Linked DNA regions of Homo sapiens: all the other regions are linked to region 1. Evidence: fine-mapped expression QTL. A gene starts in region 1. Each other region holds a variant in brackets. All regions are shown on one strand. Distances are between the middles of the regions.

Region 1 (5,214 bases):
ACGCAGACAGAACTCAGTGTTGACGGCGTGGCATAACATGCAGGCTCCACATCTGGGCCACAGCTGTAGGTGGAGAGGAGAATGCCTACTTCTGAGGGGATGTACGATGGGACCAAGTTGGCTTCTTGGGATGCTCAGAGCCCTAGGAGTGAGCACCAATGAGCCACTCTTTTGCAGTTTTCCTCCATTTTCAGAAGGCAGGCATCCCATAATTTCTCTGGCAGATTATTTGCCTTTCCAAGTGCTCTCCTAATCCAACATTTCCATCTGGCACACAGTGTCATTCTTGCTCCTGAATTCCTGATTCCAGAGCATTTCTGCCATTTTCTTCCTTTGCACAGTGTGTACCTTCCCTCTTCTCCTCTTCTTCCAAATGTCCATATTTTTGTGGTGGAAAAAGTGGGGACAGGGGAGACAGAAGACTGGAATCCTTATCAAGTCCTCTCTCAGCCCTTGGTGGCTCTGGTTCCTTCTCTGTGAAAGGGTGACGTGTGGGGAAGGGGTTGGGGATGAGGTAGGAGAGGGGGTCTGAGTTCCTTCCCACGTCTAACGATGGCTGGAACCAGGCCTCTGTGTTCAACCAAGGGTACTTTCTGTTTCTGTCCATTTGGGGAAGTTGCTTTTTCTTGGTATTTCGGGAGTCAGGAAAAGAAAAGTCATTGGTGTTCATATCTCTCAAAGCCTCAGGTAGGGCTGCGGCTTTTGACCAACAATAACGTATGACCATGACCTTGTGGCCGAGTTTGCACGCCTCTAACAGATATTATGACACAGTTCCATTCAATAGTGGAAGTGGAGATTTCAGCGTTGCCCTTTGTTAACCCACAAATGAAGTGCTACTCTTCCATTGTGAGGGCTGTCGGAGCAGTAGCCAACCTTCTTATCCCCATTTTTTAAACGAGGGAAAGGAGGCATAGGAAGCGCAGTGTCTTGTGGGATTCCCTGGGGAGTCCTTCCAACTCTTGGTAGAGCATCATCTGCAACGTCGTCTGGGGGAGAAAAGGGGGAGGCAAGAAGAGGGCCTTGACCCTGGAGGCAGGAACTCCCGCACACCCTCACTCCCTTCCCCAGGGGCTGGGGAAACCACTCAGGTGACAGTAGCCTTGGTGCCGGCCAGGGAGGGCGGGAAGTCCAGCCAGAGGCTGGAACAGCAGTGCTGAACGCCGGGACTGGCTGGTATTTCTATGAAGGTTCCTGCAGAAGGATGCGGGTCAAGGTGCCCGTCTGCACAGCAGTAGTGCAGGCATTTTAAGGGTTAAGGGCACCCAAAGAAAATAGAAGTAGGGGCCGGGCGCAGTGGCTCACGCCTGTAATCCCAGCACTTTGGGAAGCCGAGGCGGGCGGATCACGAGGTCAAGAGATCGAGACCATCCTGGCCAACATGGTGAAACCCCGTCTCTAGTAAAAATACAAAAAATTGGGCGTGGTGGCGCGCGCCTGTAGTCCCAGCTACCCGGGAGGCTGAGGCAGGAGAATCGCTTGAACCCGGGAGGCGGAGGTTGTGGGGAGTCAAGATCGTGCCACTGCACTCCAGCCTGGCGACAGAGCGAGACTCCATCTCAAAAAAAAAAAAAAAAAAAAGAAAGAAAATAGAAGTAGGAAGAGGAAGTGGGTCGCAGTGAGAGAAGGAAGCAGCTCGTCGGAGCTTCCTCTTTCTCGTCTTTCCCCTAAGCCCCTACCCCAGACCTGCCCCCCTGCTCCGCCCAGCCCTCCTGCGGGGCCAAAGCCGCGCTTCCGACGCGGGGGCCTAACCTCCCCTTACTCCTTGGGGGTCGCTGGTGCTCCGCGCTGGTGCCCCTCGGGCCACTGCCATGGACCGGCCAGGGTCTGCTTCTTCCGAGGGCTGGCGGGTCAGAGCCGGGGCTGCTTCTCAGACGCCTTGCGGCCTCGGGGGCGTGACCCAGAGGATGTGGGGCCGGGCGCGCACCTGGCTGACGCTGCCGGGCCGCCAGGTGGCTGGAGAGGCCGGCTCCGCGGTCAGCCCCGCCCCATTAGGCCCCGCCCCCTGACAGGCTCCGCCCCGCCCGCCGGAGGAGCCCAGGCTGGGCAGATGCTGCGGCTCGCCGCGCGGCTCCAGCTGGGGCGCGGTGGTCCCGACGGTCACCCGAATCGCAGGGAGTCGCCGCTGGAGAGGGGCTCGGCGCCCGGCGGGGACTGCAGGTGTGTGACTGGGCGGCCAGGGCGGATGCGGAGGGCACGCATGGGAGCTCCAGGCAGAGCTGGAGCAAGCTGGGGACCGTCGGGGAGAGTGGGCTCCGCGAGCAGCCGCCGCAGCCCGAGGGCTGGACAGATCCTGCTATCTTCCGGCCCCGTGGACCTGGCCCACCGCGGGGGCAGCGGGTCTGCAAACCTGCGCTCCAGATAACCCCAGAGACTTAAGGGGCGTCGCGGGGACCACTTATCGTTATCCGGGTAACCTCTGCTGGGCGGCTCTGCGCAGCTGTGTCCTCAGCCTCCTGCCTCTGACACAGGACGCCCTGTGTCGTAGGGTCAGGTCCCCTGCCCGCTCCAGCGGGGAACTGTCCGTGAGCGTGGGCATCAGGGCTCTTGTGCCGTCAGAACCTGGGAGTCATGGAAGTGCCCGCGTAAGGCGCCCTCCGTCGAGCCTCACTCAGCCTGCTAGTTAGCCAGCCTTGGGCCCAGACGCGGCTGCTGTCCTAGAGAACTGCACGCTTTCTGCTCTCAGAGGATCTGTGTTTACACACTGGACATCCCCGCGTGACTCGTGTGTGTGTGTGTGTGTGTGTGTGTGTGGGCATGCGCATGTGCGCGTGCTGGCCCATCCCGGCCTGGGGTAAATACACAAAAAGTTCAGGTCAGTAGGAGGAAGGAGATTGTTCAGAAGGAAAAGGAAGGCGAGGTTAAAGCAGCAGGATGTGGTATAAAGCGAGTTAACAAGACTCGGAGTAGAGAGGAGGGGTGGGTTTAGGCAGAATAAGGGCTAAAAGTAGGCCAAGCCTGCCTCCAAGGTCCTCTCTGGACTGACACCCTCGTTTTCCTTCTGTGTCTTCTCATCCACCCCACACTTTCCTTCCTGCCCTCAGGACCACCTGTAAGGCACTGGCTCCCAGAGCTGACTGCAGGTAGGGCTCTCTTGGAGCCAACCCTACAACGTGGCTTTCCAGGGATGGGATCTGGAATCTGTAGTTTTCAAAACTTTGAATGAGCTCCTTAAGTGATGATGCTGAAGCCGTTGCTTGGGAACCATGCATGATGTGGAAAAGAGACCCAAGTTCCAACCGGATCCAGCTGTGTGACCTGCAGCATCACACTGTCCCCCAACCCAGCCTCAGTCTCCTGATTCATAAAATGGGCTGTCATACTGACCCATAGAGCTGTGTGGAATTATTATTATTATTATTATTGAGACAGGGTCTTGCTCTGTCACTCAGGCTGGAGTGCAGTGGCGTGATCATGGCTCACTGCAGCCTTAAATTCCCAGGCTCAAGCAATCCTCCGCCTCCGCCTCCCAAGTAGCTGGGATTACAGGTCAGCACCACGGCGCCCAGCTAATTTTTGTATTTTTTGTAGAGGCAGGGTTTTGCCATGTTGCCCAGGTTGGTCCCAAATTCCTTGAGCTCAAGCGATCCGTCTACCTTGGCCTTCCAAAGTGCTGGGATTATAGACATGAGCCACTGTGCCTGGCCCAGTGTGGAAAATTAAGTGAGGCATGTATGATGAGAACGGCTGCACGTGGGAGATGCTCCGTGGATGTTTGTAGAACGCTGGCTTCCGTGTTTCCTCGTTGTGGCTGTGGTGGTGTGGGTCTTTGCCTGTGGACCCGTGGAAGACAAAGAAGACAGTTTTGGATGGTCAAGCTACTTTCTTGCTTCAGGGCTCCCTCCCCTGCTTTTTGAAGCCTCACAAACCAGGACTGTGAGGGCAGGAAGGCTTGGGGTCTTTGTGTGCTGAGCCTCATTAGGGTTTTAAGAACCTCCCTCCTTTCATCTCTAGCTTACGAGAGGGATGATTCATTATCTTCCCTCCTCAGGCTGCAGTAGAAGCAGACAGTCTCTGCCTCCCTGCTTGCCTTTCCTCCCTCCCATTCACTGTTGATTATTGCCCTCAAGAATAACAGGTTGCCCAGCTACTCGAGAAGCTTAAGTGGGAGGATTGCTTGACCCCAGGAGTTCGAGGCTGCAGTGAGCTATGATCGCTTCACTGCGCTATAGCCTGGCAGACACAGAGAGACCCTATCTCAAGCAAACAGACAAACAAAAAAAAAAAAAGAAGAAGAAGAAGAAGAATAGGTTGGATGCTAACTGGTGGCACTGGGTGACAAGAGCATTTGGGGTTGATGTTGGCATGAGGATGAGAAGGCAGGGGTGCAGGCTGCTCCATACCCCTGTGTTAGCCATCCATCAGGGGCCTGCTGGCTGAGGAGTGGGAGAGGAGGAGAGCCAGGATCCTTTTTGCCTGGGTAGCCTAGAGTTTGGAAGCCCCAGCTTGGGTTCCACTGAGCACTCAAGCTGTGCTGACTTGGCCTTTCTTCAAAGATGCTCATCCCAAGGGACTGAGCTGCGTGGCCCTGTGGGACCTCTGAGAACCAGAATGCCTGTTTGGCCTCAGCTGGTGAGCTAAAAGCCTGAACCAATGTGTTAAGAAAGAAAGCTGGCCAGGCATAGTGGTTCATGCCTATAATCCCAGCACTTTGGGAAGCCAAGGCTTTGAGGCCAGGAGTTCGAGGCTGCAGTGAGCTATGATCGTGTCACTGCATTCCAGCCTGGGCAACAGAGTGAGACCCTGTCTTTACAAAAACAAAAAATAAAATTTAAAAAACAGAGAAAGCTCCTGGAAGAAGAAGATAGAGTGATCCTTAACAAGTCAAGGGAGAGGTGTTTAATTTGATTTTTGAGCCTCAGATATAGATGGGGTGGGAGGAGAGAAAGGAAAGAGTACATCTGACTTCTGCCCAAAGGGAAGATGATACCCTCCCGTAGCAAACATATATTACATAGTAAAATATTTCATCAATTTGAAGATGTACATATTTTCACATTTTAGCACTGAATGTGCTAATTGTATGAATTTCACTGAAATCAAGGTGCATTTTACTGTTTATGGCATCTTCCAATTATAATAGGCAACAATATTTCTTCCTTATTGCCACACAAAATAACGGTGCATCTTACAATTGATGGCATCTTAGATTCTATTAAATACAGTGCACTTTTTATAGATTTGGGGGATGTGTTAGCGATACACAGGTCCACA
Region 2 (5,214 bases), 82 kb after region 1:
GGCCCTGGGGAGGCACGGTTACCGGGAGGCAGGACCATGGGAAGGGGGGTTACATGGGAGGTCGGGCCAGGTGGAGGCAGGCTTACCCAGCAGGTGGGCCCTGGGGAGGCAGGGTTACCCAGGAGGTGGGGCCCTGGAGAGGCAGGACCCTGGGAAGGTGTGATCACAGCGGAGATGGGGCCCTGGAGAGGCAGGACCCTGGGAAGGTGTGATCACAGCGGAGATGGGGCCCTGGAGAGGCAGGACCCTGGGAATGTGTGATCACAGCGGAGATGGGCCCTGGAGTGATGGGGTCACTGAGGAGGTGGAGATCCCCAGAACGTGGAGCCAGAGAGAGAGGCAGGGCCTTGGTGAGACAGATCCCTAGGGAGTCACGGTCCATGTGGTAGGGGATGGGGAGGTAAGGCCCAGGGAGGCAAGGCCACTGCGTTCGTGAGGAGCCGGGGAAGCCAGGGGTAGTGAAGGGTCTGTCTGTGTGTGGCACAGGTCCTGGCAGCAAGCGGCTGGGCATCGATGGCGACCGGGAGGCTGTTCCTCTAACACTACAGATTATTTACAGCAAGGTAAGACCCGTGCTGGGGCTCCTTCCCCTCCAGGATCTGCTGCTGATACTTCCTCCGCCAGAGCTTGGACCCAGAGCTGGACTCGTGTGTTCCTGGGCCCCAGTCTTTACGCTGGAAGGCTGCAGCAGGCTCCCCTGGATGCTGAGAGAAGCAGAGAAGGGAAGGAGTGGATATCTCTGTGCTTCTTGGCCTCCAAAGCCTCTCTCCCACCATGTTCTCTGCCCCCACCCGAATGCGCTCAGCAGCAGCCCAGGGGTAGGGGTCTGCTGGGCCTGGCTACAGGGCTGGGGCTGAAAGGGGGAAAGGGAAGCCTTCCAGAGGCACCTCAGGGAGAAGCCAGGGTCTCGGGGGGCCAGTGTGCCTGGCAGGCTGCATGCAAGATGGGATTGGCGTGAGAAAGGAGTGAGGAGAGCTGTGGGGAGGTGGAGGGCTGTCCATGACATGCCAGAAGACATGAGTTCTCTGAGCAGGTCGCATCCCAAGGTCCAGGCTGAGGGAAGCTTGGCCTCACAGGTGGGCTTCTTCCTTCGGCCATTCCAAAGATATCCTCTTAGCACCTGCCCATGCTGCCTCTGTGCTGGGCAGGGGAAAAGAGGGGTTGAGCAGGGAAGCCTAGGCCTCACTTTAGCTTGTCTAGAGGAGGGAGACAGACAAGAAACGAGGAAACAAAGAAATAGCCAAGATAATTCCAGAGAGCGGCAAGTGATGACAAAGCAATAAAACAGCAGATGGACGGTGGTGTTGGGGCTGCAGTGCGTTTGGCAGTGAAGGAGGTGGGCAGGAGGCACCGACACTCACTGTAGCCACATGCCAGGTGCTTGCTAGACGTCTTCCACAGCCCAGGCACTGTTCTAGGCCCTGGAGCCTTCCTAAGAGTGAACAAAGGACAGACGTGGTCCCAGGAGACCTGCTGGCCCCCTGGAGTGGGTGGTAGGCATTGGTTCGATGATGCACACGATGTAAAATTACAACTGTGACACATGGATGAGGAGAGGGACACGGGATGTTCCTAAGTGGCAAACCGAACCCAGTCAGGAGAGTTAGTAGTGAAGGCTTCCTTGAGAAGGCACCTGAGTTAATATTGGAGGGAAAACCAGGAATTAATTAGGCTGAGAAGAGAGGTGAGTGCTCTCACAGCAGCAGAAACTGCATGTGCAAAGGCCCTGTGGTGGGAGGCAGTGTGAACACCTTGAAGCACTCTGAAAGAAGACCCCCAGGCTGGAGCAGAGACAGCTGGTGGGAACATGATGCTGAGGTGAGGCTAAAGAAATGGGGGACCAGCATACCAAGAGCCTTAATTGCAATGAAAGGAGTTTTGTGGTTTTTTGTTTGTTTTTTTGAGACATAGTCTCGCCCTGTTTCTCAGGCTAGAGTGCAATGGCTCAATCTTGGCTCACTGCAACATCCGCCTCCCTGGTTCAAGCAATTCTCCTGCCTCAGCCTCCTGAGTAGCTGGGTAGCAGGTGCCCGCCACCACACCCGGCTAATTTTTTGTATCTTTAGTAGAGACGGGGTTTCACCA[C/T]GTTGGCCAGGCTGGTCTCGAACTCCTGACCTCATGATCCACCTGCCTTGGCTTCCCAAAGTGCTGGGGTTACAGGCATGAGCCACCACGCCCGACCCAATGAAAGGAATTTTATCCTAGTCCTAAGAGCAGTGGATATCCATTAAGGGGGCTTATGTTTGTGGTGGGGCTGGGAATGCCTGTGACATGATTATATCTGAGGCTTGGAAGCTCCCTCTGGCAGCTCTGTGGAGGACAGATAGGAAGGGTCCACAAGTGATGCAGGAAGGCCAGTTAGGAGGCTGTTGCCATGGTCCAGAAGAGAAATTAGGGCAGCAGCCTGCACTAGGGTAGTGGTGGCAGAGCTGGAAAGGAATGGGAGACAGATGTGAGTGATGTAATCAGCAGGGCCCATGGATGGGTTAGGAAAGGAGAGGCCAGACTCCTGGAGTCACTCCTCTGTGACTGGCAGCACCATCTTCTCTGGGGGGACCACAGGAAGAGGCCGGGGTCCAGTTGGGGAAGAGCTTGAGTTTGGGTCGGGACATATTATTGAGGTTGAGAGGCCTTGAGAGGTATAAGGAGACAGTGAGAATAGACGGCTGGCTGAACGGGCCTGACTTTGTGGTGAATATGAAGATGGGTGGACAGCTGCTAATGGAAAAAGGTCACGGAGGAGACTCCTGAAGGGGGGAAGCAGGGAATACAAAGAGCAGAGGACCAAGGGGAGAACCTTGAGCCCTTCATGATGTAATGGCGGGCAGAGGGCAGCGATCCAGCAAAGCAGAGAGGCACCAGCCAGAGAGGCGCTAGAAAAACCAGGAAGGTGCCATCACGAAAGCCCAGGAGAGGTTTTCAAGGAGGGGAGAGCAGTGAACTGTAAGGTCAAGTAAGCTGAGGACCAAGAAGTGTTCTTCGGTTTAACAACATGGAGGTCCCTGATGACAGAGACATTCACACAAAGACTTGAAGAGGGGGTTCAGGTCTGGCTCTGCCAGAAACAGCATGTCTGTGGGCCCAACCCTTCTTCACTCTGGGCCCGGCAGGAGAGCTTCAGGACCACCCCTGCAGGTGCTCTCAGCTCTTGTACCTTTCAACCTGGTCACAGAGGCTGCTGACCCCTAGACCAAGCCAGTGACGTGAGCTCTTCCCTGGAGTCATCCAGGTCTATCCAGGGTGGTACAGGGGCCCTGGTGAATAAGAGAGGGCTTTCTGGGGATATGCTAACTAGAGGCAACCCCCTGTCACTGATGGGCCTTCAAAGAGAAGGCAGCAGGCACCGGGGCCTCTGGACTCAGAGGGTCTGGCTACACTGCATTTCCAGGGGGCCATCAGTGGACGAAGTCGCTGGAGCAACCTGGAGAAGGTCTGTACCTCCGTGAACCTCAACAAGGCCTGCCGGAAGCAGGAGGAGCTGGGTGAGTGGGGTGGTCAGTGTGGGGTGTGCAGTAGGGAGGTGCTCTGAGCCTGGCCTGAGTGTCCTTGCCCCTCAGATTCCAGCATGGAGGCCCTGACGCTAAACCTGACAGAAGTGGTGAAAAGGCAGAACTCCAAATCCAAGAAGGGCTTTAACCAGGTACGGGCTTCCCTCTCCTTCCAGCCATACCCTCAAGAGACTTACTGGAGCGTGCATGTGCGTATGTGTGTACGTGTGTGTGCACATGTATGTGTGTGCATGTGTGCACATACACACCCGTGTGTACATACTTGTGTGTGTGTGAGAGAGAGAGGAGAGGTGGGGGAGGAGAGGCAGGGTGAGGGGTATGATTTGGGGATGCACACAGGTGTGGAGTGTTGCGGGGTGTCGGGGAGGTAGGGGTGCCCTGTGAGAGGACGCGTGTATGTGGAAAAGTTGTGGGGTGGGTGCCAGGAGAGTCCTAAGACTCTGAGACCAAAGAAAGCAGGCTCTGGATCAGGGGACCTGGGGCTGCTCCGGTGAGGGCAGCAGGCAGGGCAATGTCTCCTCAGGGGGCACTTGCTTCTTCCAGATGCTGGAGAGGAGGCAGGGGCTGATGGAGGCCTCAGGCTCCCTCCTGTGACCTGGCCATTAACCCTGGAGCGCAGTCAGACAAACCCCTGCCCTCCCACACCCCTAGAAGTGGATGGGCAGTTCTGAGAAAAGGAACTGCCAGGGGCTGGCAGTGTTGGATGGCCAGGGATTTGGGGCTGACCTGGGCCTTCCTTCCAGATTAGCACATCGCAGATCAAAGTGGACAAGGTGCAGATCATCGGCTCCAACAGCTGCCCCTTTGCTGTGTGCCTGGACCAGGATGAGAGAAAGATCCTGCAGAGTGTAGTCAGGTAGGAAAGGGGGGTCCTAGGGAGGGGAGCAGTTTCTGCTCCCACCAACCCAGAGGCCTGGAAGGAGCTGGAAGGATGGGGGCCTGCTCTGATCCCTGGCCCCTGCCCTGCTGCACAGATGTGAGGTCTCACCGTGCTACAAGCCAGAGAAGAGCGACCTCTCCTCACCACCCCAGACGCCTCCTGACCTGCCGGCCCAGGCCGCACCTGATCTCTGCTCCCTTCTCTGCCTGCCCATCATGACTTTCAGTGGAGCTCTGCCCTAGTGTGGGCCCAGCGCCAGACTGGACAGAAGCCCTGGGGCAACCTCCTCGGCCACCCCTCCAGGACAGTCCCTCTCTGTGGAGAACTGAATGGCCCTGTGCAGAGCCATAGTCCCACTGTGGGTCCTGCAATGAGCAGGGGCTGGGAGTAGAGGGTTTCTGGGGCCTCAGGGTTCTGGGAAAGCAACAGCTATCAGAGAGAGAAGGGCCAGACCCCATAGCCTCTTAGATTCCTGGCAGTAGAAGGAGAAGGATGGGTAAATTGACCTCTGAAGTCCCTGACCATTAGCATGGTCTAGGATCCTTTCTAGAAGGAAGATCTGAGGCTCTGGTGCTCAGGGGGATGGCTTGGGCCTTTTCTCTCAACCTTGGCTGAGCCTACCCCTTACTTTGCCAAAGACTTGAGGACCCTGTATGTCTGGAGTTCAGTCCCCTCCTCTGTGGGGCTCAGGTGATTGAAATGTGGATGAAACATTTCTCTACTTCAAGACCACCTCTCCCTGCAAACACCACACACACATGGCATGCATGTACGCACATGCGCACACACACACGCACACACCTCAATAATTTCTCTCAAGTTTCC
Region 3 (5,214 bases), 75 kb after region 1:
TATGACAGCCTGATACACAAACACACACACACACACACACACACACACACACACACACAGCTGAAATGAAATGTATCCTGGTTACATAGGATGAGCTCTGTTCTATTCTATTTCATTTAAGAAACAAATTTGGCTCCCCAGATGATTTCATTACCCACTCCTGTGTCCTGACCTGCAGTTTGAAAAGCACTAGAGAGGGGGTGCCCATTAGGAGGACCCTCTGCAGGCCTTGAAGAGTTGGGTGCTGTCTCACCTTGACATGTTGGGAGCCCAGGGACCCCGGCCTTCACCACCTCAGAAATTATAGGCCCCCGGCCCTCCTCATTCCCAGCCCCAGGGGTTCACTTCCCACTCACTCCCCTGAGCAACACTTCTTGACTTCCCTCTAGGTGAAAACAAACACAAACAAAATGATAGATGTTGAGACAGAGGGAAAGGATGCTAAAATGTTGTAGTTTAGTAAGTAAATAAGATTCCTCTGGGGGAGCTGGGGCAGGTGGGCTGATGAAGAATCATCAAAGCCCTTTAGACCTTTATTCGGACTCCAGGCACCATCCTAAGCATGGTTACATGTGCTGACTCATTTAATCCTCACGTTAACCCCGTGAGAAAGGGATTTTTCACATAAGGGAAGTGAGGCACCGAGAGATTTGTAGAAAGAGCTTACAGTTGGGAGATGGTCTCACTTTCATTATCTGTAAATTGAGAATGATGATAAATTCTTCGGGAGAGAAATTATGCAAGCTGGTGAGGGCAGGGGCTCGGCTGGGCTCGTTACAAGGTTGTAAGGGGCTGCTTATACAAGCCCACCTCCTTTTTCTTACAGATAGAGAAATCAAAGTGAGTTTCTTCCCAAATGATGGGGACTTTGACAGAGACTAGTCCTGTCTCTGCCCTGTCCCCGGGCACCGACGTCCCCAGAGTGTGGAGGGAATGCTGCCCTGCGTGGTGCTCCTTTGCACTGGGTTTAAACGCAGTGTGGAATTGAGAGAGCAAGAGCTCTCATCACATGCAGCTCATACTAAAGCATTTATGGATACAAAGCCGCCATGGCTCGAATTTGCTTCGAGGTCATGCAGTGATGGAGGGGTTGGCATGGGGGAAGTGAGAACAGCCGTGCGTTGTTAACTGTAAACAGAGTGATCAGCGCCTCAGAGCCCACGATTCTTTTAATTTGGGGTATGTTTGAAAGTTTCCATAGTAGCCGGGCGCGGTGGCTCACGCCTGTGATCCCAGCACTTTGGGAGGCCGACGCGGGTGGATCACGAGGTGAGGAGTTCAAGACCAGCCTGGCTAACACATTGAAACCCTGTCTCTACTAAAAATACAAAAAAAAAAAAAGTTAGCTGGGCGTGGTGGCGGGTGCCTGTAGTCCCAGCTATTTGGGAGGCTGAGGCAGGAGAATGGTGTGAACCCGGGAGGCGGGGCTTGCAGTGAGCTGAGATCGTGCCACTGCACTCCAGCCTGGGTGACAAGAACAAGACTCCGTCTCAAAAAAAAAAAAAAAAGAGAAAGGTTCCATAATAAAGAAATGTAAACACTGGCACCAAGAGGGAATCTGGGTATCCATCGGGAAGGGAGGTAGCAGTGGCCAGGCACACAGTCCCCTCCCAGCCAGTGAAAGCCTGTATCATGGCTTTGGGCTGATTAGAAAAGGTGTCCCTCATAAGCTCAGGAAGAAGATGCACTCTGACTTGGCATCCCCTCCTCCGGGCAGATGCAGCCCCACGGCACGAGGAATTTCATGTCCCGCTCGCCCCAGACCACACTGCACAGCACCACGTTGCTGTCCAGCTCCCCCTGAAAACTGATCGCTTGGCTTCAAGTCACCTTGCCTAAAATATGATCCTCATTTGAGTAATCTTGCATCCACTCAGCTGTCTCATAGGAAAAAACGTTTATATAAAAATTAAGTAAATTTAGTTTTAAAGAATTAAGTTCAATTTTGAAAAGATCTTTGAAAACAACAGCTGAAAAATGCTCAGCAGTGAACCCCACGCTTTCCCCTGGAAACCTGGACCCTGGAGCTGTTGCTTCTGTCCTGGCCTCCTGTGGTCACCTCCTCGAGCTCTGCCTGGGCTTGAGGAGGCCCTGGTCTCAGTGGAGCTGAGCACCAGCAGGCACGAGGGGGGTGGCTGCACTGTGGCATGCTGCGCACCCCTGGGTGCCATAGCCGGTCCCCTGTGTCCCCAGCACCGTGCTGCTGCTGAACCCAGTGGAAGTGCAGGCCGAGTTCCTTGCTGTAGCCAATAAGCTGAGTACGCCCGGACACTCGCCTCACAGTGCCTACACCACCCTGCTCCTGCACGCCTTCCAGGCCACCTTTGGGGCCCACTGTGACGTCCCGGGCCTGCACTGCAGGCTACAGGTATGTACCTGGGGCCTGGGGCTCTGGTGGAGCACCTCTCTGAGGAGGTAGCACCCTCTCCCTGCTTCATCTCAGCCACGGTCTCCAGGGTACACTTAGTCTCCTGCACCCAGGTGACATGGCAGGGTGGTGGCTGGAGGGCTGACCTC[A/G]TAGAGGGTGTTTCTGGTGTGCTGGATCCTAACCAGCTGGGTGGCAGCCTGGGCAGTAGGACTGGGTGCTGATAACTGGTGCCTCAGAAGATGGCATATGCCATAAGAACGAGAATGAGCTTTGGGCTGAAGACCTGGCATCTAGGCCTGGCTCTGTCACAGGTGTCACAGGTCGGCTGTGTCACCCCACACAGCTCCTTCCCCTCTATGGGGTACAGTGAGGAGCGCTGAAGTCCCTCCTAACTGCAGTGCCGTGGCTCTGGATCTTTCTCTCCTGACCATTTCCTGAGAATGGAAGGGCAGGGAGAGGCCTGGCTGCCTGGCCAGCTGTGGGTAGGAGATGGGTGATGAGGCTGGGAGGGGACAGATCACTGCCTCCCTCAGTAAGAAGCTAGCAACTGGAACAGGTGGACAGCTAGCTCACGGTCCAGGAGCAAAGCCCATCTCCTCCTGGGGTTTCAGGCCAAGACCCTGGCAGAGCTTGAGGACATCTTCACGGAGACCGCAGAGGCACAGGAGCTGGCATCTGGCATCGGGGATGCTGCAGAGGCCCGGCGGTGGCTCAGGACCAAGCTGCAGGCGGTGGGAGAAAAAGCTGGCTTCCCTGGGGTGTTAGGTGAGGCTCTTGGGAGAATGGGGTTCTCCCACATTCCCCATGGCCTATTCTAGGTCCCAAGGTGCACGGTCCAGGCGGGCCTGGTGGCTCTGCTCCACACAGTCACTCAGGGACTCAGCTTCTTCAGCATCTCACTGCTCTGCCATCCCCTAGGGTGTCTCATTCCTGTCTATAGGGGCAGGGTGGGGGTGCTATCATGATGGCAGCTTGTGGGAAGAGGAAAAGAGAGTGCTTACGAGGGCAAAGGCTGGGCTTTTCTGTTGAAGGTGATGCAGAAGCTGGGCACATCACTTCCGCTCATGTTCCTTTGAGCCCGCCTTGGTCACGTGGCCACATCTTGCCCCAAAGGAGCCTGGGAAACATCGTCTCTATGACTCCAGTACCATAGAAGGGAGCACAGACTTTGAGGAACCATTAGCATTCCCTGTTACAATATTCCTCATAAAAACCTTCTGGGCTAGTACTATTATTCTCCCATGGGCACATTGTAAAATGAGGCTCAGAGGTTGTGGTTTGGCCACATTCGCACAGCTCATAAAGGGCATGCCATCTACATGGTGTGCTTGAAAGAAGGGCCTCTGGCTTGGAGCCTGGCACCCTGGCTGTAACTCAGCCTCAGCCTATCCAGCTACATATCCTTGTGCCGATCCTGTCCCATCTCTGGTCTCTTCTCCAAGGCAAGGGGACTGGACTGGCCAATCTCCAAGGCCTCTTCCCAGCCCTCTTCTCCTATCCTCCCTGTTCTTACAGACACTGCAAAACCAGGGAAGCTCCACACCATCCCCATCCCTGTCGCCAGGTGCTACACCTACAGCTGGAGCCAGGACAGCTTTGGTAAGGAGCCGGGGCCCTGGTGACACCCATGCCCCACACTGCCTGAGCTGTGTTTCTGGTCCTGGGTCCATGCAGCTCCCACCCCGTCCCCAAAGCTCTCCCACATGAGCAGGCTCTAAGCAGAGCAAGGGGGCAGTGCTAGGAGTCCTGGGCTGGCCCTGAGTCCTGCTGTCTCCCCTCCAAAGGGAATATAGAAGGGGATCCGGGGCCCAGACGCCCAGACAGTGCTGGCCTTGCTTCCCTGCAGACATCCTGCAGGAAATCCTGCTCAAGGAACAGGAGCTACTCCAGCCAGGGATCCTGGGAGATGATGAAGAGGAGGAAGAGGAGGAGGAGGAGGTGGAGGAGGACTTGGAAACTGACGGGCACTGTGCCGAGAGAGATTCCCTGCTCTCCACCAGCTCTTTGGCGTCCCATGACTCCACCTTGTCCCTTGCATCCTCCCAGGCCTCGGGGCCGGCCCTCTCGCGCCATCTGCTGACTTCCTTTGTCTCAGGCCTCTCTGATGGCATGGACAGCGGCTACGTGGAGGACAGCGAGGAGAGCTCCTCCGAGTGGCCTTGGAGGCGTGGCAGCCAGGAACGCCGAGGCCACCGCAGGCCTGGGCAGAAGTTCATCAGGATCTATAAACTCTTCAAGAGCACCAGCCAGCTGGTACTGCGGAGGGACTCTCGGAGCCTGGAGGGCAGCTCGGACACGGCCCTGCCCCTGAGGCGGGCAGGGAGCCTCTGCAGCCCCCTGGACGAACCAGTATCACCCCCTTCCCGGGCCCAGCGCTCCCGCTCCCTGCCCCAGCCCAAACTCGGTACCCAGCTGCCCAGCTGGCTTCTGGCCCCTGCTTCACGCCCCCAGCGCCGCCGCCCCTTCCTGAGTGGAGATGAGGATCCCAAGGCTTCCACGCTACGTGTTGTGGTCTTTGGCTCCGATCGGATTTCAGGGAAGGTGGCTCGGGCGTACAGCAACCTTCGGTAAGAGCCGTAATGCGGAGCATCCCTCTGCCCTGGGTAACAGGGTTGTTGTGCTGGTGGAATCTGGGGCCTGAGGCTTAGGGCCCCAGAGGAACCAAAAGTTCCCTTATTTATTTTTATTTTATTATTATTATTATTATTATTATTATTATTATTATTATTATTATTTTGAGACAGAGTCTTGCTCTGTTGCCCGGGCTGGAGTGCAGTGGCATGATCTCGGCTCACTGCAACCTCTGGCTCTCCAGTTCAAGCGATTCTTGTGCCTCAGCCTCCCGA

Which allele goes with the higher level. Positions count from the first base shown, and alleles are read on the strand shown. Sizes are in standard deviations (SD) of each study's normalised expression. Not every link is listed here.
As copies of A replace G in region 3, the expression in testis of the gene that starts at base 2,049 in region 1 goes up (moderate effect, 0.42 SD a copy in GTEx).

What was found.
Region 2: its variant is fine-mapped to the expression of PIK3R5 in whole blood (INTERVAL, PIP 0.96).
Region 3: its variant is fine-mapped to the expression of PIK3R5 in testis (GTEx, PIP above 0.99).

Annotation. Positions count from the first base shown.
Region 1 is chr17:8,962,542-8,967,755 of GRCh38, reverse strand. PIK3R5 (phosphoinositide-3-kinase regulatory subunit 5) reads left to right here and starts at 2,049. Exons shown (of 19, transcript NM_001142633.3): 1 at 2,049-2,160. It overlaps PIK3R5-DT (PIK3R5 divergent transcript), which reads right to left and starts at 1,909. Exons shown (of 3, transcript NR_184080.1): 1 at 1,753-1,909; 2 at 1-989. RefSeq lists silencers at 1,636-1,735, 1,806-2,125.
Region 2 is chr17:8,880,056-8,885,269 of GRCh38, reverse strand. PIK3R5 (phosphoinositide-3-kinase regulatory subunit 5) reads left to right here. Exons shown (of 19, transcript NM_001142633.3): 15 at 487-563; 16 at 3,389-3,482; 17 at 3,558-3,640; 18 at 4,253-4,365; 19 at 4,484-5,214. The coding sequence ends at 4,631. It overlaps LOC124903919 (a long non-coding RNA gene), which reads right to left. Exons shown (of 3, transcript XR_007065610.1): 2 at 87-704. Among named protein-coding and RNA genes, the nearest start is that of PIK3R6, 15 kb to the right of the region's middle. RefSeq lists a silencer at 213-376. The variant C/T (reference allele first, on the strand shown) is at 2,086.
Region 3 is chr17:8,887,892-8,893,105 of GRCh38, reverse strand. It overlaps PIK3R5 (phosphoinositide-3-kinase regulatory subunit 5), which reads left to right. Exons shown (of 19, transcript NM_001142633.3): 7 at 2,194-2,368; 8 at 2,980-3,133; 9 at 3,884-3,967; 10 at 4,215-4,935. It overlaps LOC124903922 (a long non-coding RNA gene), which reads right to left. Exons shown (of 2, transcript XR_007065613.1): 2 at 1,152-1,318. Among named protein-coding and RNA genes, the nearest start is that of PIK3R6, 23 kb to the right of the region's middle. RefSeq lists enhancers at 672-781, 3,558-4,366, 4,367-5,175. The variant A/G (reference allele first, on the strand shown) is at 2,518.